Linked DNA regions of Homo sapiens. Each later gene encodes a partner of the first gene's protein in a complex. Each region holds a gene or a part of one and is shown on either strand. Other genes may lie near its edges. The genes, in order: GRB2 and SHC1. A codon is read from its position in the direction of its gene.

Region 1 (16,431 bases):
TGTGGCGCGATCTCGGCTCACTGCAACCCCCAACTCCCTGGTTCAAGGGATTCTCCTGCCTCCACCTCCTGAGTAGCTGGGATTACAGGCATGTGCCACCATGCCTGGCTAATTTTTGTATTTTTAGTAGAGATGGGGTTTCACTGTGTTGGTCAGGATGGTCTCAATCTCCTGACCTCCTGATCCGCCCGCCTCGGCCTCCCAAAGTGCTGGGATTACAGGTGTGAGCCACCACACCCGGCCCAAAGCCCATCTTTTTAAAGACTTTCAAAACATTTGCCTGTTAGAGCTTGCAGCAAGCCAAGATCACGCCACTGCACTCCAGCCTATTCAACAAAGCAAGACTCTGTCTCAAAAAATAAAAAATAAAAAAAATTCACCCGTAAGCATGTAGTCACATGTACATATCATCATTTTAAAAAGTCAAATTTATAAATGATATAAAATGCTATAGAAATGTAGAATGGTGGTATTTCAGTGTTTTAGTAGTGACAGCTATTCACAGGGTCTTGCTCTGTCATCCAGGTTGGGCTCAAGTTATCCTCCCACCTTAGTCTCCTAAGTTGCTGCGTCTACAGCTGTGCACCACTATGCCTGGCTAATTTTTTATTTTTCGTAGAGACAGGGTCTCACTGTGTTGCCCGGGCTGGTCTTGATCTACTGGGCTTAAGCAATCCTCCCACCTTAGCCTCCCAAAGTGCTGGAATTAACAGGCGTGAGCAACTGCACCTGGTGCCAGATTTTTTATTTCTTGATCTGGGTGCTTATAACAGAGTTGTGGTTTTTTTGGTTTTTGGTTTTAATTCCAGTTAGAGTACTTTTTAAACATTATAATTTGTACTTCACTACAATTTATTTTTTTTAATTGAAAATAAAATTGCGTTAATTTTAAGCTGGGGGCAAGAAAACACAGCAGCCATGTCTATGTGACACCAGACAGAAAGGTCTGGAAACCTAAGTGTTAGAACCGCCAACACGTGCTGCCTCTGGGGAGTTTGAGGGAAGCATCTTACTTTTTATGTTTGCTTCATGTACATCTAGGCTATTTCAGTTTATATTCATTATTTTATACCTACAAATGGGAAAAAACCTCCCTAGTGGAGAGATCTTGGGGGCCTAGGAGGAAAGAGAGCCTTGCTGATTGAGAATCTTCACCCTCACCATTGCTATTGGAAGTGGCAGTGGTGGGGAGTGTGGGGCAGTGTGGGGAGAGCCAGCCGAGGCCATGTGTGGATTTTCACTGCTGTACCCAGTCAGATGCATGCTGCATACACTTATATTAGAAACCCAGGGCCCCCCGATATGAGAAGGTTTAAATACCGTTGATTGGGGCCCCCCGATTGAGAAGGTCTCAATACCGTTAAGTGTCCTTATTTATTTATTTATTTATTTATTTATTTATTTTTTGAAAGCGAGTCTCGCTTTGTCGCCCAGGCTAGAGTGCAGTGGCGCGATCTCGGCTCACTGCAAGCTCCGCCTCCCAGGTTCACTCCATTCTCCTGCCTCAGCCTCCTGAGTAACTGGGACTACAGGCACCTGCCACCACGCCTGGCTAATTTTTTGTATTTTTAGTAAAGACAGGGTTTCACCGTGTTAGCCAGGTTGGTCTCGATCTCCTGACTTTGTGACCCGCCCGCCTCGGCCTCCCAAAGTGCTGGGATTACAGGCGTGAGCCACCACACCCGGCCTATTTAATTTTTTTGAGATGGAGTTTCACTCTTGTTGCCCAGGCTGGAGTGCAATGGCACGATCTCGGCTCACCGCAACCTCTGCCTCCCGGAGATTCAAGCGATTCTCCTGCCTCAGCCTCCCGAGTAGCTGGGATTACAGGCATGCGCCACCGCGCCTTGCTAATTTTGTATTTTTAGTAGAGATGGAGTTTCTCCATGTTGGCCAGGCTGGTCTCGAACTCCTGACCTCAGATGATCCGCCCACCTCGGCCTCCCAAAGTGCTGCGATTACAGGCATTGAGCCACCGCACCCAGCCTCCTTTTTTATTTTATTTATTTATATATTTTTTTGAGACAGAGTCTCACTCTTTCGCCCAGGCTGGAGTGCGGTGGCACAGTCTCGGCTCACTACAACCTCTGCCTCCCAGGTTCAAGTGATTCTCCTGCCTCAGCCTCCCGAGTAGCTGGGATTACAGGTGCCCACCACTGTGCCCATCTAATTTTTGTATTTTTGGTAGAGAGTGGGTTTCACCACGTTGGCCAGGCTGGTCTCAAACTCCTGACCTCAAGTGATTCACCCCACCTCAGCCTCCCAAAGTGCTGCAATTACAGGCATGAGGTACCGGGCCCAGCCTGTCCTTTTATATTTAGAGAGCATTCTATTCTAGTGATATGTGATTTCTCTTGTGTGGCCTGATTTCCAGGCACTGCAGGCCCTAGCCTTGAGTTATTTGTAGAAGCAGGAGGATCTATTGTCCCAGCTCCTCAGCATCCTGGCAGTAGAGTATGCAAAATGAGAAAGACTCCAAGCAGGTAGATGTCAGACTATTCAGAGTTACTAAGAGTCCCTAGAGGCTGACACACACACACAAGGACAAAGTTACTAAGGGCAGCTTCTAAGTGTATCCTTCCTAGCAGATCACATCTTTCTGTTTGAATTTGAGTATAGTATATTATTTTAGGTACATCTTCCAATATGGTTGCTTATAAGTAAGATATGTAAATTAGCCGGGCGTGGTGGCTCGCGACTTTAATCCCAGCACTTTGGGAGGCTGAGGCGGGCAGATCTCGAGGTCGGGAGTTCAAGACCAGCCTGGCCAATATGGTGAAACCCCGTCTCTATTAAAAATACAAAAATTAGCTGGGCGTGGTGGTGGCCGCCTGTAATCCCAGCTACTAGGGAAGCTGAGGCAGGAGAATTGCTTGAACCCAGGAGGCGAAGGTTGCAGTGAGCCGAGATCGTGCCACTGCACTCCAGCCTTGATGACAGAGTGAGACTCTATCTAAAAAAAAAAGGGCCGGGCGTAGTGGCTCATGCCTGTAATCCCAGCACTTTGGGAGGCCAAGGCAGGCGGATCAACAAGGTCAGGAGATCGAGACCATCCTGGCTAACACGGTGAAACCCCATCTTTACTAAAAATACAAAATATTAGCCGGGCATGGTGGCGGGCGCCTATGTATAGTCCCAGCTGCTCAGCTACTTGGGAGGCTGAGGCAGGAGAATGGCGTGAACCCGGGAGGCAGAGCTTGCAGTGAGCGAGATCGTGCCACTGCACTCCAGCCTGGGTGACAGAGCTAGACTCCTCAAAAAAAAAAAAAAAGAAAAGATATGTAAGTTAGATTTACAACTTTAATGGACTATTTGGTCCATTAAAAGGACTTTTGATATTATAATTAGCATATTAAATGAATGCCAGTTTCCATGTTTATAGGTCTTTATTTGCTATAACTTTTGCTTTTAAAAATGATAACTAAAGACAATTTTGAGAAGAGAACATGGTTTTCACAGTTTCTTCTTCCTAATTATAGTTTTCATTTGAAATAGTGAGGCAGCTTGACTTGAAGCTCTTGTAGAAGTGTTCCTCTCCTCTTCCTCTTGATAAGCCACAGCCAGTTGCTTCACAGTTTTTCATGAATTTAGCCACTTTTTCTTCTGGCCAAGGTGAATCAGCAATTGGGAGCAGAAGAGTCTGCAACTTGCCTCAAAAATCTGAATTTTGCAGCTAGCTGCTGAGCATATGGTAAATTACAATATTCCTGGTGGCTTCTGAAAGCTGAACTCTGAGCAGTGGCCCCAGAGGCAGGCCTTGAGAGGAATGCTGACCTTAGTTACTGGTAGAGGCACCCTCATACTATCTGAACCTTTTGCCTTTGGGCTGTTAGCAAAAGTAACCCTGCCTCCAGCTCCTGGCCGTCCAGGTTTCCTCCCCACTTTCCCTTAGTCCCACTGTGGTGAAGCTGTGATCTTATCACATGGCTGCAGGAAGGGGCCAGTCTCTCCTTGGCAGTTCATCCCGTACACCAAGCCCAAAGGCCTGAGCTTTTCCCCAGGCGCCTTTGTCATGAGTCAGTAGGGAGTCCAGTGGGCTTTGGCCTGGGGGGCCCATTTTCAAATGTCTCCCTCTATAGAAAGAGTGACCCACGGTTAGTGCCTTGGTGAGTCGCTTTCTGGGAAATGGAGTAGGCTAAAGACCTTTGAAGGTCCATCTCTGGGGACCCAACCCAGTGTCGATCTTGGGCACTGTGAGGCTGGAGGATGAGGAGGGAGGCCCCTTCCTCTGGCAAGGAGTGTTGTGTTACTCACATTTTGAAGGCTGGATATCCCGTTTCTTTGTGGGGAAGCAGATGTTGACCAGCTTGCCTTCCTTCCTTAGGTGGTTTTTTGGCAAAATCCCCAGAGCCAAGGCAGAAGAAATGCTTAGCAAACAGCGGCACGATGGGGCCTTTCTTATCCGAGAGAGTGAGAGCGCTCCTGGGGACTTCTCCCTCTCTGTCAAGTAAGTATTTCCTGCTGCAGTTGCCTGGAATCCTGTCTCTGACTGATCCAAATTGTGAAGCCGTTGGTCAGGTGCCTGGCTACACACAAAATGGTGGAGGCTTAGCCTAAACAGTTTCTTCATTTCACATTAAAATCCTAATTTCTGGCTCCTCTCAAAATGAGTTCTAGAAGCACTGGATGTAGATTCCCATGTGGACACAGCCTTCAGGAGGTGAGCAGCAGCTCCCTGCAGCCAGCTGGAGCCTGCCAGTTTTCCCTAGTGCCCAGCACTCCTGAGCTTCTGCCCTCCAAGGGATTCCCGCAGCTCTCTCTAATGGGATAGTGGAGCGCCTGTCGGCTGCCTTGGCTTGCCTTGCTCAGGTCCACTGACTTAAATCAACCAGCCCCATCCTAGGCCCTCACAGTCACTTAAGAAGGCTGCTGCAGGGGATGTGGGGCTTGCATTTCCCCGGTGGAAAGTTCAGGTGTGAAAGGGAGCGGGTAAGCAGGGAATGGAGAAGACAGGAAGTTCTGCCGCCATGGAGAGTGTGGAGAATAGAAACCAGCACTTGAAGATTCTAAACAATTCACACCTCAGCTGTGAAGTCGGGATTTTGAATTAAATTGTTATTTCCATGTTTTTTACTTTCAGTTATTTTCTAGTTAATGTATTATCATAGGACCCTCCCCAGGAGTCCGGCAGATCACTTCATCAGTTATATATAAAGAAGTAATTAGATTCAACACTCAGATCACTACTTAGTTTAGATTACATTAAGATTGTTTTGTTTTTGAATGGGGGATAGAAAACCATTTTCCTTTTATTTTATTTACTTATTTTTGAGACAGAGTCTCGCTCTGTCCCCCAGGCTGGAGTCCAATGGCATGCCTCAGCTCACTGCAACCTCCACCTCCCAGGTTCAAGCAGTTCTCCCTGCCCCACCCTCCGAGTACCTGGGATTACAGGTGCCTGACACCACGCCCGGCTTATTTTTGTATTTTTAGTAGAGATGGGGTTTTGCCATATTGGCCAGGCTGGTCTTGAACTCCTGACCTCAGGTGATCCACCCACCTCGACCTCCCAAAGTGCTGGGATTACAGGCTGGAGCCACTGCTTCCAGCCACCATTTCCCATTTATAACTGATGTAAAGCGTGAGACTTTTCCATTTCAAAAATGAACTGACCAGCCTGGCCAACATGGTGAAACCCTGTTTCTGCTAAAAATAGAAAATAACCCAGGCATAGTGGCACACACCTGTAGTCCCAGCTACTTGGGAGGCTGAGGCCAGAGAATCATTTGAATCCAGGAGGCGGAGGTTGTAGTGAGGCGAGATGGCGCCATTGCACTTTAGCCTGGGCGAAGAGCAAAACTCTGTCTCCAAAAAAAAAAAAAAAAAAAAAAAAAAAACTGGGTGCGGTGGCTCACACCTGTAATCCCAGCACTTTGGGAGGCCGAGGCAGGCAGATCACCTGAGGTCAGAAGTTCGAGACCAGCCTGGCGAACATGGTAAAACCCTGTCTCTACTAAAAAAAAAAAAAAAAAAAAAAATACAAAAATGGCCTCGGCGTGGTGGCGTGTGCCTGTAATCCCAGCTACTCAGGAGGCTGAGAGAGAAGAATCACTTGAACCCGAGAGGCAGATGAGCCAAGATCGTGCCACTACACTCCAGCCTGAGTGACAGAGTAAGACTGTGTCTCCCAAAACAAACAAACAAACTGAATATCTTATTTGGTTTTAGAACCACTTAATGTGTGATTAAAATGTAGATTTTTTTTTTGAAACGTAGATTTTAAATTTATAGTTGTGGCCCGGCATGGTGGCTCATGCCTGTAATCCCAGCCCTTTAGGAGGCTGAGGCGGGCCGATCATGAGGTCAGGAGTTTGAGACCAGCCTGACCAATATGGTGAAACACTGTCCCTACTAAAAAAATACAAAAATTAGCCAGGCGTGGTGGCACATGCCTGTATTCCCAGCTACTCCGGAGGCTGAAGCAGGAGAATCACTTGAACCTAGGAGGCAGAGGTTGCAGTGAGCCGAGACTGAGCCATTGCATTCCAGCCTGGGTGAAAGAGCAAGACTCCATCCATCTTTAAAAAAAAAAAAAAAAGAAAAGAAAAACATGTGTGACACCTGTCTTTCTTTAGTTTTATACTGACCCAAGTGTAACTGAAACCTTATAAGATGAGGGGAACAAGCAGTAAATCACTGGGTGGTGGCCAAAACCACGGGGGCAGCCACGTGCTCGGCTGGACGCTGCCTGTTTGCTCAGCAGAAACTCTCAAACTTCCATTTTCTCAAGTAGAATCTTTTAAGGATTTAATGCATTTATTGTTTTAGAAGCAAAGCAGGTGTCATGACTCTCTTTAACAACACACACACCTCTGCAAAAAAGGTTCAAGAATCAACAGTTGTCAGATGTTTCTTAGTTTTAGGATGTTTTGAGCCTGTGATTTGAAACACTGCTCATTATTGGGGCCCTGGGCTCTTAGAAACCACCTGCATTGCATGGGTGGAAGTGGGCCTCTGTGGGGCCAGAAGTGCCGTGGAATATACCCTTGCTAATGAAGCTTTCTCACCTTCCACATTTTGTCTTAACATGTAAAGCAGTATTTTTTCCAAATGCGAGGCATCTTGTGCTGAGTGGCTTCCTTGAGGCTCAGTGCTGCCACCTGCCGGATTGATTTTCTGAAGCCTTTGGTTTCCATCAGCTGAAAGACTGAAGGAGAGGAGGGACTCATTCATTCATTGAACAAGCACTCTCAGAGAATGCCTTTTTTTTTTTTTTTTTTTTTAATGAGATGGAGTGTCACTCTGTCGCACAGGCTGGAGTACAGTGGCCCAATCTCGGCTCACTGCAAGCTCCTCCTCCCGGGTTCACACCATTCTCCTGCCTCAGCCTCCCGAGTAGCTGTGACTACAGGCATCTGCCACCACACCTGGCTAATTTTTTGTATTTTTAGTAGAGACGGGGTTTCACTGTGTTAGCCATGGTGGTCTCGATATCCTGACCTTATGATCCGCCCACCTCGGCCTCCCAAAGTGCTGGGATTACAGGCATGAGCCACCGCATCCGGCCGAGAATGCCGAGAGTGCCCGGCCAGGTGAACAGGACAGGCAGAAGCGCCCTCGCTAGGCTGGTGTTTTAGCCAAATATCCTGTGACAGACCCTGTGAGCTAGTACCAGCCAGCCACGCTGTTGCCGGTTTTGCTTGCCAGTATAAAAGGGTGTGATCTAGTGATGGAGAAGCTTTTGGGTTTTGAAGTCTGGGCCTCTTTTATTGTCCCAGTACGTCCTTTTGTTCAGAGACCTTTTCCCCATGAGTGGAGCTAAAATTCCTGAATGGAAAACATTACTTTGAACTATTCCCAGTTACGAGAGAATTGTTGAAAGTATTTCCAGCCCTCCTCACCTTCTTCCTGCATATAAGATTTTAATTATTTTTTTATTCAAAGGATGTTAAGTCACACTCCTTTGTCTTAAGTACGGCTGTTTTTATTTGGTAGGGTTCAGGGCACATGGACTCTTTTTTTTTTTTTTTTTGAGACAGAGTTTCACTCTTGTTACCCAGGTTGGAGTGCAATGGCGCGATCTCAGCTCACCACAACCTCGGCCTCCCAGGTTCAAGTGATTCTCCTGCCTCAGCCTCCCGAGTAGCTGGGATTACAGGCATGCACCATCATGCCCAGCTACTTTTGTATTTTTAGTAGAGATGGGATTTCTCCATGTTGGCCAGGCTGGTCTCGAACTCCCGACCTCAGGTGATCTGCCCACCACGGCCTCCAAAGTGTTGGGATTACAGGTGTGAGCCACCGCACCCGGCCTGGACTCTTTATCTTACAAACATCTTCAGAATGAGAATGACTGATGGCCTGTCCCTCTCTGGTTTCTGGATGTTGTCCTGGTGCCCATCATTCATAGGGAGAGGTCCGTCCCAGGGACACCCAGTGAGGAAACTTGTTGCTCTGCAGTCCCTGAGGAGTGCTGCTGGGACAGTGGTTCTCTCGAGATAGCTCCTATATGGAAATACCCTCGATTTGCCAAGTTAGAGCCTTTAGCCGGTCACATGTGCTTTCTGTCCCTCCCAGGTTTGGAAACGATGTGCAGCACTTCAAGGTGCTCCGAGATGGAGCCGGGAAGTACTTCCTCTGGGTGGTGAAGTTCAATTCTTTGAATGAGCTGGTGGATTATCACAGATCTACATCTGTCTCCAGAAACCAGCAGATATTCCTGCGGGACATAGAACAGGTGCCACAGGTAAGCCTCATCAGGGTGAGATGGGATCATTTTTAGTTAAGAATAGCTCCTCAGTGTGCATTCCTGTAGGAAAGGGGAGGCGCCCCTCAACATGCGGGCGCCCTTCAGGGATTGCCGCTGGGGCTTCTGTGCTCCTTACTGAAAATGTTACCCTCCATTCACACTAAAGAGTTCTTTTTTCTGGCCCAGCATAGTAGCTCACACCTATAATCCCAGCACTTTGGGAGGCCGAGGCAGGCAGATCTCTTGAGGTCAGGTGTTTGAGACTAGCCTGGCCAACATGGTGAAACCCTGTCGCTACTAAAAATACAAAAATTAGCTGGATGTGGTGGCGCACACCTGCAGTCCCAGCTACTCGGGAAGCTGAGATGGAAAAATTGCTTGAACCCAGGAGGTGGAGATTGTAGTGAGCTGAGATTGCACCACTGCACTCCAACCTGGGCGACAGAGGGAGACTTCATTTCAAAAAAAAAAAAAAAAAAAAAAAAAGATTTGTTGTTTCAAATACAAGGTTTTTGCTTTTCCAGAGGCAGTGTGTAGCCAGCTTGCCAGCCTCTCTAGGGAGATGGTCTTTAACACACCCACCCAAAGATCCTGTCCCTGGAAGCAAATTATGAGGAAAACTATGCTTGTGAGGGAATGGGGTCGGCACCCGTTCCTGTCCCTCGAGCCCTGGTCGTAAGTTACGGTTAGAGCCCCTTATGTTATTCGAGCTCCAGAACTTTAGGCTTTAATACCTTAAGGGTGTCGTAGAAGGGATTTGCGATTCTGGGCCCACGGCCTAAACACAGATGGCTGTTTCTGAAGAACTTTCTCCTCCAAGCACTGCCTGCCCTCTACTTGATAATACGGCACAGTTGGCCACCCTCCTCTGGGAGACATACTCTAATATTTTCTGAGCACTGGGAAATATCACACTAAACCCGCTTGGCCTGTAAACTTAGAATAGGTAAGAATAAACGGGGGGTTGGGAGATGGGAGGTGAGTTTAAGAAACATGGAGAATTTGGCACGCATTCGTTTCCCCCTGGAACCCATCTGGCCTCGGAGGTGGCCAGTCACAGACCAGGAATGCAATGTGGGTTTTTCCTGCTCCTGTTTTGCAGCAGCCGACATACGTCCAGGCCCTCTTTGACTTTGATCCCCAGGAGGATGGAGAGCTGGGCTTCCGCCGGGGAGATTTTATCCATGTCATGGATAACTCAGACCCCAACTGGTGGAAAGGAGCTTGCCACGGGCAGACCGGCATGTTTCCCCGCAATTATGTCACCCCCGTGAACCGGAACGTCTAAGAGTCAAGAAGCAATTATTTAAAGAAAGTGAAAAATGTAAAACACATACAAAAGAATTAAACCCACAAGCTGCCTCTGACAGCAGCCTGTGAGGGAGTGCAGAACACCTGGCCGGGTCACCCTGTGACCCTCTCACTTTGGTTGGAACTTTAGGGGGTGGGAGGGGGCGTTGGATTTAAAAATGCCAAAACTTACCTATAAATTAAGAAGAGTTTTTATTACAAATTTTCACTGCTGCTCCTCTTTCCCCTCCTTTGTCTTTTTTTTCATCCTTTTTTCTCTTCTGTCCATCAGTGCATGACGTTTAAGGCCACGTATAGTCCTAGCTGACGCCAATAATAAAAAACAAGAAACCAAGTGGGCTGGTATTCTCTCTATGCAAAATGTCTGTTTTAGTTGGAATGACTGAAAGAAGAACAGCTGTTCCTGTGTTCTTCGTATATACACACAAAAAGGAGCGGGCAGGGCCGCTCGATGCCTTTGCTGTTTAGCTTCCTCCAGAGGAGGGGACTTGTAGGAATCTGCCTTCCAGCCCAGACCCCCAGTGTATTTTGTCCAAGTTCACAGTAGAGTAGGGTAGAAGGAAAGCATGTCTCTGCTTCCATGGCTTCCTGAGAAAGCCCACCTGGGCTGGGCGCGGTGGCTCACGCCTGTAATCCCAGCACTTTGGGAGGCCAAGGTGGGCGGATCACAAGGTCAGGAGTTCGAGACCAACCTAGCCAACATGGTGAAACCCCGTCTCTACTAAAAATAAGAAATTAGCCGGGTGTGGCACGCACCTGTAGTCCCAGCTACTTGGGAGCCTGAGGCAGGAGAATCGCTTGAACCTGGGAAGTGGAGGTTGAGTGAGCCGGGACCGTGCCATTGTACTCCAGCCTGGGTGACAGAGCGAGATTCCGTCTCAAAAAAAAAAAAAAAAAGCCCACCTGAAAGCCTGTCTCTTTCCACTTTGTTGGCCCTTCCAGTGGGATTATCGAGCATGTTGTTTTTTCATAGTGCCTTTTTCCTTATTTCAAGGGTTGCTTCTGAGTGGTGTTTTTTTTTTTTTTTTAATTTGTTTTGTTTTAAAATAAGTTAAAGGCAGTCCAGAGCTTTTCAGCCAATTTGTCTCCTACTCTGTGTAAATATTTTTCCCTCCGGGCAGGGGAGCCAGGGTAGAGCAAAGGAGACAAAGCAGGAGTGGAAGGTGAGGCGTTCTCCTGCTTGTACTAAGCCAGGAGGCTTTAAGCTCCAGCTTTAAGGGTTGTGAGCCCCTTGGGGGTTCAGGGAACTGCTTGCCCAGGGTGCAGTGTGAGTGTGATGGGCCACCGGGGCAAGAGGGAAGGTGACCGCCCAGCTCTCCCACATCCCACTGGATCTGGCTTACAGGGGGGTCGGAAGCCTGTCCTCACCGTCTCGGGGGTTGTGGCCCCCGCCCCCTCCCTATATGCACCCCTGGAACCAGCAAGTCCCAGACAAGGAGAGCGGAGGAGGAAGTCATGGGAACGCAGCCTCCAGTTGTAGCAGGTTTCACTATTCCTATGCTGGGGTACACAGTGAGAGTACTCACTTTTCACTTGTCTTGCTCTTAGATTGGGCCATGGCTTTCATCCTGTGTCCCCTGACCTGTCCAGGTGAGTGTGAGGGCAGCACTGGGAAGCTGGAGTGCTGCTTGTGCCTCCCTTCCCAGTGGGCTGTGTTGACTGCTGCTCCCCACCCCTACCGATGGTCCCAGGAAGCAGGGAGAGTTGGGGAAGGCAAGATTGGAAAGACAGGAAGACCAAGGCCTCGGCAGAACTCTCTGTCTTCTCTCCACTTCTGGTCCCCTGTGGTGATGTGCCTGTAATCTTTTTCTCCACCCAAACCCCTTCCCACGACAAAAACAAGACTGCCTCCCTCTCTTCCGGGAGCTGGTGACAGCCTTGGGCCTTTCAGTCCCAAAGCGGCCGATGGGAGTCTCCCTCCGACTCCAGATATGAACAGGGCCCAGGCCTGGAGCGTTTGCTGTGCCAGGAGGCGGCAGCTCTTCTGGGCAGAGCCTGTCCCCGCCTTCCCTCACTCTTCCTCATCCTGCTTCTCTTTTCCTCGCAGATGATAAAAGGAATCTGGCATTCTACACCTGGACCATTTGATTGTTTTATTTTGGAATTGGTGTATATCATGAAGCCTTGCTGAACTAAGTTTTGTGTGTATATATTTAAAAAAAAAATCAGTGTTTAAATAAAGACCTATGTACTTAATCCTTTAACTCTGCGGATAGCATTTGGTAGGTAGTGATTAACTGTGAATAATAAATACACAATGAATTCTTCACTTGGTATCTTTTTTTCCCCTTGCCTGCCTTAAAAATTTAAAAACCGCATCGGGGAGTCAGGAATCTTGGGTCCTTATTTCAGACGTGATCACCCAGCTTACATCCCCCTAGGGGAGCATGTGGGGCTCACAGGCCTTCCTGGGAGCGATGCCTGCAGTTGGCTGTCAGGAACTCCTGGGGAGCCTGTTAACAATACAGAATCGCAAACCCCGCCCCACATCCTCGGACATTGCCTTTGAGGACACAGACACGCCCGCTGTTTCTGATGTAGAGAAACCACTGACCACGCTTTGGGAACTCTGGTCTAGACCAAGGGCTTTGGGAAGATAAAGAGCTTGGCTTATTTGGTTCTCCTGTTTTCTGTGTTAAACAAGAAGAAGGACAGAAACACCTGTGAAGAAACGGTTTTAATATGCTGAGTAACTGAAATATACTTGTTTGCTCAATAGGCTGCTTTTAGGGTGAGACTAGGCATATTTACACACACGTTGGCTACAGAGGCAAAGAAGACTGAACAAAAAAGAAATGAGGTCTGGCCATGGTAGCTCATGCCTGTAATCCCAGCACTTTGAGAGGCCAAGGTGGGGGATCACTTGAGCCCAGGAGTTTTGAGGCCAGTCTGGGCAGCATAGGGAGACTCCCTGCCTCTCTACAAAAAGCAAATTAGCCAGATGCAGTGGCGCACGCCTGTAGTGAGGATTACTTGGGAGGCTGAGGTGGATCACTTGAGCCCAGGAGGTCAAGACTACAGTGAGCTGTGGTTGCACCACTGCACTCCAGCCTGGGCAACAGGGTGAGACCTTGTCTCGAAAAAGTAATAAAAAGGGGACAGGCAGGGTGGCTCACACCTGTAATCCCAGCACTTTGGGAGACTGAAGCGGGTGAATCACAAGGTCAGGAGTTCAAGACCAGCCTGGCCAACATGGTGAAACCCCATCTCTACTAAAAATACAAAAATTAGCCAGCTGTGGTGGCAGGTGTCTGTAGTCCCAGCTACTCGGGAGGCTGAGGCAGGAGAATCGCTTGAACCCGGGAGGTGGAGGTTACAGTGAGCCGAGATTGCACCACTGCACTCCAGCCTGGGTGACAGAGCTAGGTTCCCTCTCAAAAAAATAAAATAAAATAAAAAATAAAGGTAATAAGGGCCAGGCTCAGTGGCTTACGCCTGTAATCCTAACACTTTGAGAGGCTGAGGCGGGTGGATTGCTTGAGCTCAAGAATGCCACACCAGCCTGGGCAACATAGTGAAACCCATCTCTACCAAAAATTAGCTGAGTGTGGTGATGCACACCTGTGGTCCCAGCTACTCAGGAGGCTGAAGTGGAGGTTGCAGTGAGCTGTCATGCCACTATACTCCAGCCTGAGAGACAGACCTCTCTCAAAAAAAAAAAAAAAATACCCAAGAAATCTCGACTTGAATTCTTCTTGGTGTAGCCACACTGAGCAGGGGAGGCTTGTGGGTTGTTTTGTTTTGTGACAGGGTCTTTATCTGCCACCCAGGCTGGAGTGCTACGGTGCAATCATAGCTCACTGCAGACTCAATCCCCTGGGCTCAAGTGATCACCTCAGCCTCCCAAGTAGCTGGGACTGTAGGCATACACTACTGCACCCAAGTAGCTGGGACTACAGGCATACGCTACTGCACCCAAGTAGCTGGGACTACAGGCATACGCTACTGCACCTGGCTAATTTCATTTTTTTTTGTACAGTGGGGTCTGTGTTTCCCAGGCTGGTCTCAGACTCCTGGGCTCAAGAGATCCCCCCACCCTTGGCCTTTCAAAGTGCTGGAAATCCAGGCGTGAGCTGTGCCTGGCCTGGGACGTTTTTGACCTTCCCCTGCAGCAGTCATGTGTGGGAAGGATCTTGACCCAGCAAGAGTCAAGACTGCTAGTCCTGTGGTCCACTTGGGCTGGCCTCCTTGAAGCTGAGCAGAAGTTTACAAAATGGAGCTATGTAATTGAAAAGGCCGGGCGTGGTGACTCATTTAGCCTCATTTGAGGCTTTTTGCTCAATTTGTCCCCTCCCTCGCGTTTGACTGACTGTTTCAGAATTAATGGGAAAATCACTCCTTTTCTGTGATCAGCAGTTTGGTCACAGATTTCTTAGTGATGGTATCTCCCTCCTCAGGGATCCGGGATTCCTGGGAAGACATCTGGGCGGGGTGCCTTGGGAAGCCTCCCAGCATCTTACAGGAGCCCTGTGGCCGGCGTGCAGCCGGGAGTCGCTCAGTGTGTCAGGGGAAAAGCTGGAGGTAGGCGCATGGCCTCGCTCTTCAGGGCACGCCCCCCCCACCCCTCCCTGACACGCTTCCCTCCACCCAGTGAGCTGGGAGCCCCTGACAGGCTCACCTTCAGACTTGAGTGTGGAGGAGATGGTGACCCACAGCGCGGGGCTGCTTAGGTGGCCTCTGAGCCAAAGGCCATGATGGCGCAGGCTGCCTGCCTTCCCTGGGCACTAGTTCCACCTGACTGTTCATGGGGTGGGTGACCTTCAGCCCAAAACGTTCGCTTTATGGAAGTTCCTGGATAACTGGAAAAAATGACAGTGGACCTGTTTTATGCGTCTTGGAAATACTTTTTTTTTCTTTTTTTTTTTTTTGAGACAGAGTCTCCGTCTGTCCCCTAGGCTGGAATGCAGTGGCACGATCTTGGCTCACTGCAACCTCCACCTCCCGGGTTCAAGTGATTCTCCTGCCTCACCCTCCTAAGTAGCTGGGATAACCAGCTCCTGCCACCACGCCCAGCTAATTTTTGTACCTGGGGTCAGGAGTTCAAGACCAGCCTGGCCAACGTGGTGAAACCCTGTCTCTACTAAAAATACAAAAATTAGGTGGGCGTGGTGGCGGGCACCTGTAATCACAGCTACTCGGCAGGCTGAGTCAGGAGAATCGCTTGAACCCGGGAGGCAGAGGTTGCAGTGAGCCGAGATCGCGCCATCACACTCCAGCCTGGGCGACAGAGTGAGACTCCGTCTCAAAAAAAAAAGAGTACAATTCTGTGTGCCAACAGCACTGATAGATCAATATTACATGTTAGTGATATTGATTAAGCCACTTACTGCTTAGTGCATTCCAAACACTACTTTTAAAACTAACACTAAAAGCCATACTATACCCCGTCCAAAAAAGAAATCACTAAGACGTATTTTAAGTCTCAACTCTGGCCCACCCAAGAGCAACACTGGTCTTAGGTCTCCAAGGACAGCCTTCTTTTTTTCTTTTTTCTTTTTTTTTTTTCAGTTGGAGTCTGGCTCTGTTGCTGGAGTACAGTGGCGCCATCTCAGCTCATTGCAACCTCCGCTTCCTGGGTGCAAGCGATTCTGCTGCCTCAGCTTCCCGAATAGCTCGGACTACAGGCGCCCGCCACCACACCCAGCTAATTTTTGTATTTTTAGTAGAGATGGGGTTTCACCATGTTGGCCACGATGGTCTTGATCTCCTGACCTCGTGATCTGCCCACCTTGGCCTCTAAAGTGCTGGGATTACAGGCGTGAGCCACCAGGCCCTGCCCCAGCCTTTTTTTTTTTTAACATTCCTGGATTCGGGTTGAGAAAGCACAGCTATTGCAGCCATTCTCTGAGTGTGAGTCGTGGCGTCAGCAGTGTTGGCCTCCAAAATAGCAGCTGCCAGGTCCTGAGGGCTCGCCTCGTGCTGCAGGCCTGTGCAAGGGCCCGAGCCTGGGGTGAAAGGGTGGATGTTTGCCTCCTGCTGTAACCCCACCCCTCATCCTGCGCTGTGCTAGGGAAGCAAGGGGCGAGGGTGTACCCTTTTTCATTTACTCTGTTACACATGTGTTGCCCACACCTGTAGGGATTGATGGTGAACGTCATTCCTGGGGCGTGTGGAATTGGAGGCAATTATCTCCCCTCTAACTGGAGGCTGAGGAGGGCCCCCGTGTCTTCTCACACCATCAACCACCGCTTTCCATTCCTGCACGGTGGCATTGCTGCCCTGAGTCACCCTGAAACTGGAAACTGCCCCACTGGAGCCTTCTGTCCTTGACACAGACGCACTCTTCAGTCCTGATCCTTGTATTATGCAAGCCCTTGCATGAGAGAGACTCAAAGAGGAAATGTAGACAGCACAGGCTCAAAGGGAGGCTTGGAGGCAGATGGGACTTGCCCTGGGGATTGGGTGAAATGAGTTTGGACAGTTACTAATAG
Region 2 (6,086 bases), on another chromosome or scaffold:
ACCATTGGCCAGGCCTTCGAGTTGCGCTTCAAACAATACCTCAGGAACCCACCCAAACTGGTCACCCCTCATGACAGGTGAGCAGGTGGGGAGAGTGTGGAGCAGCTCTTGGATTAGGATTAGGAAAGGAGGGCTGCTCTTCCTACACTTGAGTTGAGAGGTTCAGGGAGGGAATAACCTGTGTGCCTCTGCTTCCCACTTCCTGCTATTCTTCTGTTTCCTGTGGCCCAGGAGGAAAGACTTTTGAGGCCCTGCTTGCCGCAGGACCAGCTTTTCTTGTTTGCTCATGGTGGAGTTGTAGTCCGGGGCCTCCAAGTTACATCTCTCTCTGGCTAGGTGGGATTTTCTACTCCCATCCCTCTTTCTTGCTCATTTCTCTGCTTGGCATTATGTGTTTTCCTGCCTCTAGAAGCCATCAAGAATTTGGGTTTGGGAGGATATCTCTTTTCCCTGAGATTACAACCTTTCCCACCTCAGGCCTTGAGGGATAAGCAGTGGAGCCAGTAGGGATTGAATATTTAGGAGAGGTTAAAATATTCTGGAGCTGGAGTGCCTCCCCCGGCCCCCCACCCCCCTACATGGTGCTTCCCTTCCTTGTTGGGAGATAGCACAGAGATCAAGAGCAAGAGCATTACTTATTTGAGACAGTCTTGCTCTGTAGCCCAGGCTGGAGTTCAGTGGTACAATCACAGCTCACTGTAGCCTCCATATCCTGGGCTTGAGTGATCCTCCCACCTTAGCCTCCTGAGTAGCTGGGGCTACAGGTGCATGCCACCACACCTGGCTGAGTAGTAGTATTTTTATTCTGGTAGAGATAAGGTCTCGCTATGTTGTCCTGGCTGGTCTTGAACTCCTAGGCTCAAACAACCCTCCCTCCTTGGCCTCTGAAAGTGTTGGGATTATAGGCGTGAGCCATTGCACCTGGCCAAGGGGATGAGCTTTAAAGTCAAACCTGAATTTAAATCTGAGCTCGGCCGCCTTTTAGTTGTGAGACCTTGGGCAGATCTTTTCACCTCTGACCCTCATTTTCCTCATCTGTAAAAGTGGGGAAGGAAACAATACCTACCTTACGGGGTTGCCAGGAGAATGAAATGATTATGTATATAAAACACTCAGCCTCAGGCTTAATCCATAGTAAATACCCAATAGATGGCTGCTGTTCTATTCTGTCCTTCCCTCCTCCTGCCCACCACACATTTACAGCCACAGCTTCACTGTCCTGTCCCTCAGGATGGCTGGCTTTGATGGCTCAGCATGGGATGAGGAGGAGGAAGAGCCACCTGACCATCAGTACTATAATGACTTCCCGGGGAAGGAACCCCCCTTGGGGGGGGTGGTAGACATGAGGCTTCGGGAAGGAGCCGCTCCAGGGGCTGCTCGACCCACTGCACCCAATGCCCAGACCCCCAGCCACTTGGGAGCTACATTGGTAAGTTGCTTGGATGGAGGCGGGCTGGGGCTAGGGTGGGAGTGGTTGGTTAGGGCTTCTGGTCTCACCTTATTTTTATCCCTGCAGCCTGTAGGACAGCCTGTTGGGGGAGATCCAGAAGTCCGCAAACAGATGCCACCTCCACCACCCTGTCCAGGTATGAAGGGAGCCGAGATAGGCAGAGCTGGGGAGTGTTGGAGGCAGGGCTGGGATCACTGTAGAGCCTCCCTTTCCTCAGCAGGCAGAGAGCTTTTTGATGATCCCTCCTATGTCAACGTCCAGAACCTAGACAAGGCCCGGCAAGCAGTGGGTGGTGCTGGGCCCCCCAATCCTGCTATCAATGGCAGTGCACCCCGGGACCTGTTTGACATGAGTGAGTGCTCGTCTCTCTCCTCTCTGCATCCCCACCTTTCTACTTGGTTCTGGCCCTTCTCCTGCCTATCTGCTCTTTCCTTCCTGACTTCCCTTCCCTGAAGTCTGGGTCTTGGGTGTGTGTTGTGCCTGCTACTTCCCCTCACCCTCCCTCTATACTTCCAGAGCCCTTCGAAGATGCTCTTCGCGTGCCTCCACCTCCCCAGTCGGTGTCCATGGCTGAGCAGCTCCGAGGGGAGCCCTGGTTCCATGGGAAGCTGAGCCGGCGGGAGGCTGAGGCACTGCTGCAGCTCAATGGGGACTTCCTGGTACGGGAGAGCACGACCACACCTGGCCAGTATGTGCTCACTGGCTTGCAGAGTGGGCAGCCTAAGCATTTGCTACTGGTGGACCCTGAGGGTGTGGTGAGTGTGGCAGAGGTGTGGGTGAGGGGTGGCAAAAAGGAAGGTACAGTACCCTACAGTGTATCCCTCTTCCTTCCCTCATTGCTTTGTAGACATTCCCGCTGGGCAGCTGTCTATGGGCCTCTCTTGCTCTTTAAAGTGTCTGGCATCTTCCTCCAGAGGCTCATCCCTTAGCCTGAACTATGTTCTTTATAGTCCTGGCACAGGGCCAGGCGTGGTGGCTCACACCTGTAATCCCAGCGCTTTGGGAGGCTGAGGCAGGTGAATCACCTGAGGTCAGGAGTTCGAGACCAGCCTGACCAATATGGTGAAACCCTGTCTCTACTAAAAATACAAAAATTAGCCGGGTGTGGTGGCAGGCACCTGTAGTCCCAGCTACTCAGGAGGCTGAGGCAGGAGAATTGCTTGAATCTGGGATGCAGAGGTTGCAATGAGCTGAGATCACACCACTGCACTCCAGCCTGGGTGACAGAGTGAGACTCTGTCTGAAAAAACAAAACAAAACAAATACAGTCCTGGCCCGTCCTCAAATCCCCAAGCCTTAAGCTTATCAGAGCTAGAAGGCAGTCATCTCATCTGTGCCCCTCTTTTGACAAATAAGGAAACCACCCTGAAGAGGTTGTGATGCCCAATGTCAGATGGTTAGAGGCTAGACACTGCAAGTTTCCTTTTGTAAGAAGATCCAAGGGCTTCTCCAGCTCCCCAGACTCAGGACTCAGACCACTGTGCTTTCTCTTATCTGCACTGCCTCACTGTTCTTCAAAACTTTCCTTGTTTAGCCAGGTGTGGTGGTTCATGCCTGTAATCCCAACATTTTGCGAAGCTGAGGTGGGAGGATTGCTTGAGGCCAGGAGTTCAAGACCAGCCTGGGCAACATAGCGAGACCTTGTCTCTAGTCAGGAATGGTGACACATGCCTGTAGTCCTACCTACCCAGGAGGCTGAGGCCTGAGGATCGCTTGAGCCCAGGAGTTCGAGGTTACAGTGAGCCATGATTGCGCCACTGTACTCTAGCCTGGGTGACAGAGACCCTGTCTGGAAACAAAAAAACTTTTGTTTGTTTTCTACAGTAATCTCAGCTTCCTTTCTTTTTTTTTGAGATAGGGTTTTGCTTTGTCACTCAGGCTGCGGTGTGGTGGCACACCTGGCTAATTTTTGTATTTTTTTTTTGGTAGAGATGGGGTTTCGCCATGTTGCCCAAGCTGTTCTTGAACTCCCGGGCTCAAGTGATCCGCCTCCCTCGGCCTCCCAGAGTGCTGGGATTACAGGCACGGACCACCATGCCCAGCCTCCACATCTTTTTTTGCACTGTGTATACTCTTCTGAGACATGCCAACTTCCTCCAGGTCAAGAAAGGGGTATATAGCTCTCAGCTTCACTCTTTCAGGGCTGATGTCGCCTTTGCCTTTTCTCACTTCACTGACCTGTCTATTCCTACAACTGTCTCTTTCTAGAGAAGCCTCAATGATCAGGATTGACAGGCCACACTCTCCCCCACCATTTTTTTCTCCTCCTTCAAGCCTCTTGTCTGTTTCACCCTCTTCCACCTTGGAGGCTGAGGTCTTATTTGACTCTTCACCTGAATTGACCTTCTTCCTTCCCACCCTCCCAGGTTCGGACTAAGGATCACCGCTTTGAAAGTGTCAGTCACCTTATCAGCTACCACATGGACAATCACTTGCCCATCATCTCTGCGGGCAGCGAACTGTGTCTACAGCAACCTGTGGAGCGGAAACTGTGATCTGCCCTAGCGCTCTCTTCCAGAAGATGCCCTCCAATCCTTTCCACCCTATTCCCTAACTCTCGGGACCTCGTTTGGGAGTGTTCTGTGGGCTTGGCCTTGTGTCAGAGCTGGGAGTAGCATGGACTCTGGGTTTCATATCCAGCTGAGTGAGAGGGTTTGAGTCAAAAGCCTGGGTGAGAATCCTGCCTCTCCCCAAACATTAATCACCAAAGTATTAATGTACAGAGTGGCCCCTCACCTGGGCCTTTCCTGTGCCAACCTGATGCCCCTTCCCCAAGAAGGTGAGTGCTTGTCATGGAAAATGTCCTGTGGTGACAGGCCCAGTGGAACAGTCACCCTTCTGGGCAAGGGGGAACAAATCACACCTCTGGGCTTCAGGGTATCCCAGACCCCTCTCAACACCCGCCCCCCCCATGTTTAAACTTTGTGCCTTTGACCATCTCTTAGGTCTAATGATATTTTATGCAAACAGTTCTTGGACCCCTGAATTCAATGACAGGGATGCCAACACCTTCTTGGCTTCTGGGACCTGTGTTCTTGCTGAGCACCCTCTCCGGTTTGGGTTGGGATAACAGAGGCAGGAGTGGCAGCTGTCCCCTCTCCCTGGGGATATGCAACCCTTAGAGATTGCCCCAGAGCCCCACTCCCGGCCAGGCGGGAGATGGACCCCTCCCTTGCTCAGTGCCTCCTGGCCGGGGCCCCTCACCCCAAGGGGTCTGTATATACATTTCATAAGGCCTGCCCTCCCATGTTGCATGCCTATGTACTCTACGCCAAAGTGCAGCCCTTCCTCCTGAAGCCTCTGCCCTGCCTCCCTTTCTGGGAGGGCGGGGTGGGGGTGACTGAATTTGGGCCTCTTGTACAGTTAACTCTCCCAGGTGGATTTTGTGGAGGTGAGAAAAGGGGCATTGAGACTATAAAGCAGTAGACAATCCCCACATACCATCTGTAGAGTTGGAACTGCATTCTTTTAAAGTTTTATATGCATATATTTTAGGGCTGTAGACTTACTTTCCTATTTTCTTTTCCATTGCTTATTCTTGAGCACAAAATGATAATCAATTATTACATTTATACATCACCTTTTTGACTTTTCCAAGCCCTTTTACAGCTCTTGGCATTTTCCTCGCCTAGGCCTGTGAGGTAACTGGGATCGCACCTTTTATACCAGAGACCTGAGGCAGATGAAATTTATTTCCATCTAGGACTAGAAAAACTTGGGTCTCTTACCGCGAGACTGAGAGGCAGAAGTCAGCCCGAATGCCTGTCAGTTTCATGGAGGGGAAACGCAAAACCTGCAGTTCCTGAGTACCTTCTACAGGCCCGGCCCAGCCTAGGCCCGGGGTGGCCACACCACAGCAAGCCGGCCCCCCCTCTTTTGGCCTTGTGGATAAGGGAGAGTTGACCGTTTTCATCCTGGCCTCCTTTTGCTGTTTGGATGTTTCCACGGGTCTCACTTATACCAAAGGGAAAACTCTTCATTAAAGTCCGTATTTCTTCTACCTCTGCCTCTTAACCCTTCTGGGAAGCCTATTGTGTACGCCGCGGGCCCTCAGCGGCAGACGGGGAGGCGGGAGGTCGCGGCCGCCCAGGGAAGCTGGGGGTCTGCAGAGTTTGGGTGCGGCAGAGTGGGGCGTTTCGCGCCACCGTCCCCATGGGGATGTCGTGTCCGCAGAGGGGGCTGGCTCCGGGTGGGTCGAGGCGGGAGCCGGGCCTGCCCGGCGCCCCAGCACCGGCCCCCGGGCTACCTGGGCCTCCCGGGTGCGCCTTCGGCTCGCGCGCGCCCCTCCGCGGCGGCTCCACCGCCCGGGATGGTACGGTCCGGCAGCCGGGCCGCGCGCTGCCGCCCCTCGGTGAGCTGGTGTGGGCCGCCGCTAGCGGAGACGACCCTTTCCACTCGCGTGGTGCCGTGGTAAGCCTCGTCCCTCGCCCGCCGCCTGTTTTCAGGCGTAGCGTCTCGTCCGGTCCTTGCTCCCCCTCCCCGCAGCGCTCAGTGGTGGTGGCCGCGACGAGTTCCGGTTCCGGTTGCTGCCGCCGCTGGCGGGCGGCGAGTCTGGAGAGAGCGCGCAGTTTGCGCGGCGGCTCGGCGCTTCCCTGTCGTCGCACTTTGTGGTTGCTGCAGCTCGGGGGCCTGGGCT

What was found.
Region 2: the proteins of GRB2 (region 1) and SHC1 are in contact, whole or in part, in an NMR structure (PDB 1QG1), measured with the Homo sapiens proteins. Residues at the interface, in NP_002077.1 of Homo sapiens: Arg67, Glu71, Arg86, Ser88, Ser90, Asp94, Ser96, Gln106 (codon at 8,534), His107 (codon at 8,537), Phe108 (codon at 8,540), Lys109 (codon at 8,543), Leu120 (codon at 8,576), Trp121 (codon at 8,579); in NP_892113.4 of Homo sapiens: Asp423, Asp424, Pro425, Ser426, Tyr427, Val428, Asn429, Val430.

The regions. Positions count from the first base shown.
Region 1 is NC_000017.11:75,313,914-75,330,344, reverse strand, and holds the end of GRB2 (growth factor receptor-bound protein 2), read left to right. Parts: intron 1-4,324; coding exon 4,325-4,447; intron 4,448-8,517; coding exon 8,518-8,686; intron 8,687-9,791; coding exon 9,792-9,977; 3' UTR 9,978-12,269; downstream 12,270-16,431. UniProt on the Homo sapiens protein: Non-enzymatic adapter protein that plays a pivotal role in precisely regulated signaling cascades from cell surface receptors to cellular responses, including signaling transduction and gene expression.
Region 2 is NC_000001.11:154,961,662-154,967,747, reverse strand, and holds the end of SHC1 (SHC-transforming protein 1), read left to right. Parts: coding exon 1-77; intron 78-1,203; coding exon of another isoform or gene 1,204-1,230; coding exon 1,231-1,429; intron 1,430-1,516; coding exon 1,517-1,586; intron 1,587-1,667; coding exon 1,668-1,802; intron 1,803-1,966; coding exon 1,967-2,205; coding exon of another isoform or gene 2,206-2,379; exon of another isoform or gene 2,380-2,462; intron 2,463-3,816; coding exon 3,817-3,945; 3' UTR 3,946-5,450; downstream 5,451-6,086. UniProt on the Homo sapiens protein: Signaling adapter that couples activated growth factor receptors to signaling pathways. Participates in a signaling cascade initiated by activated KIT and KITLG/SCF.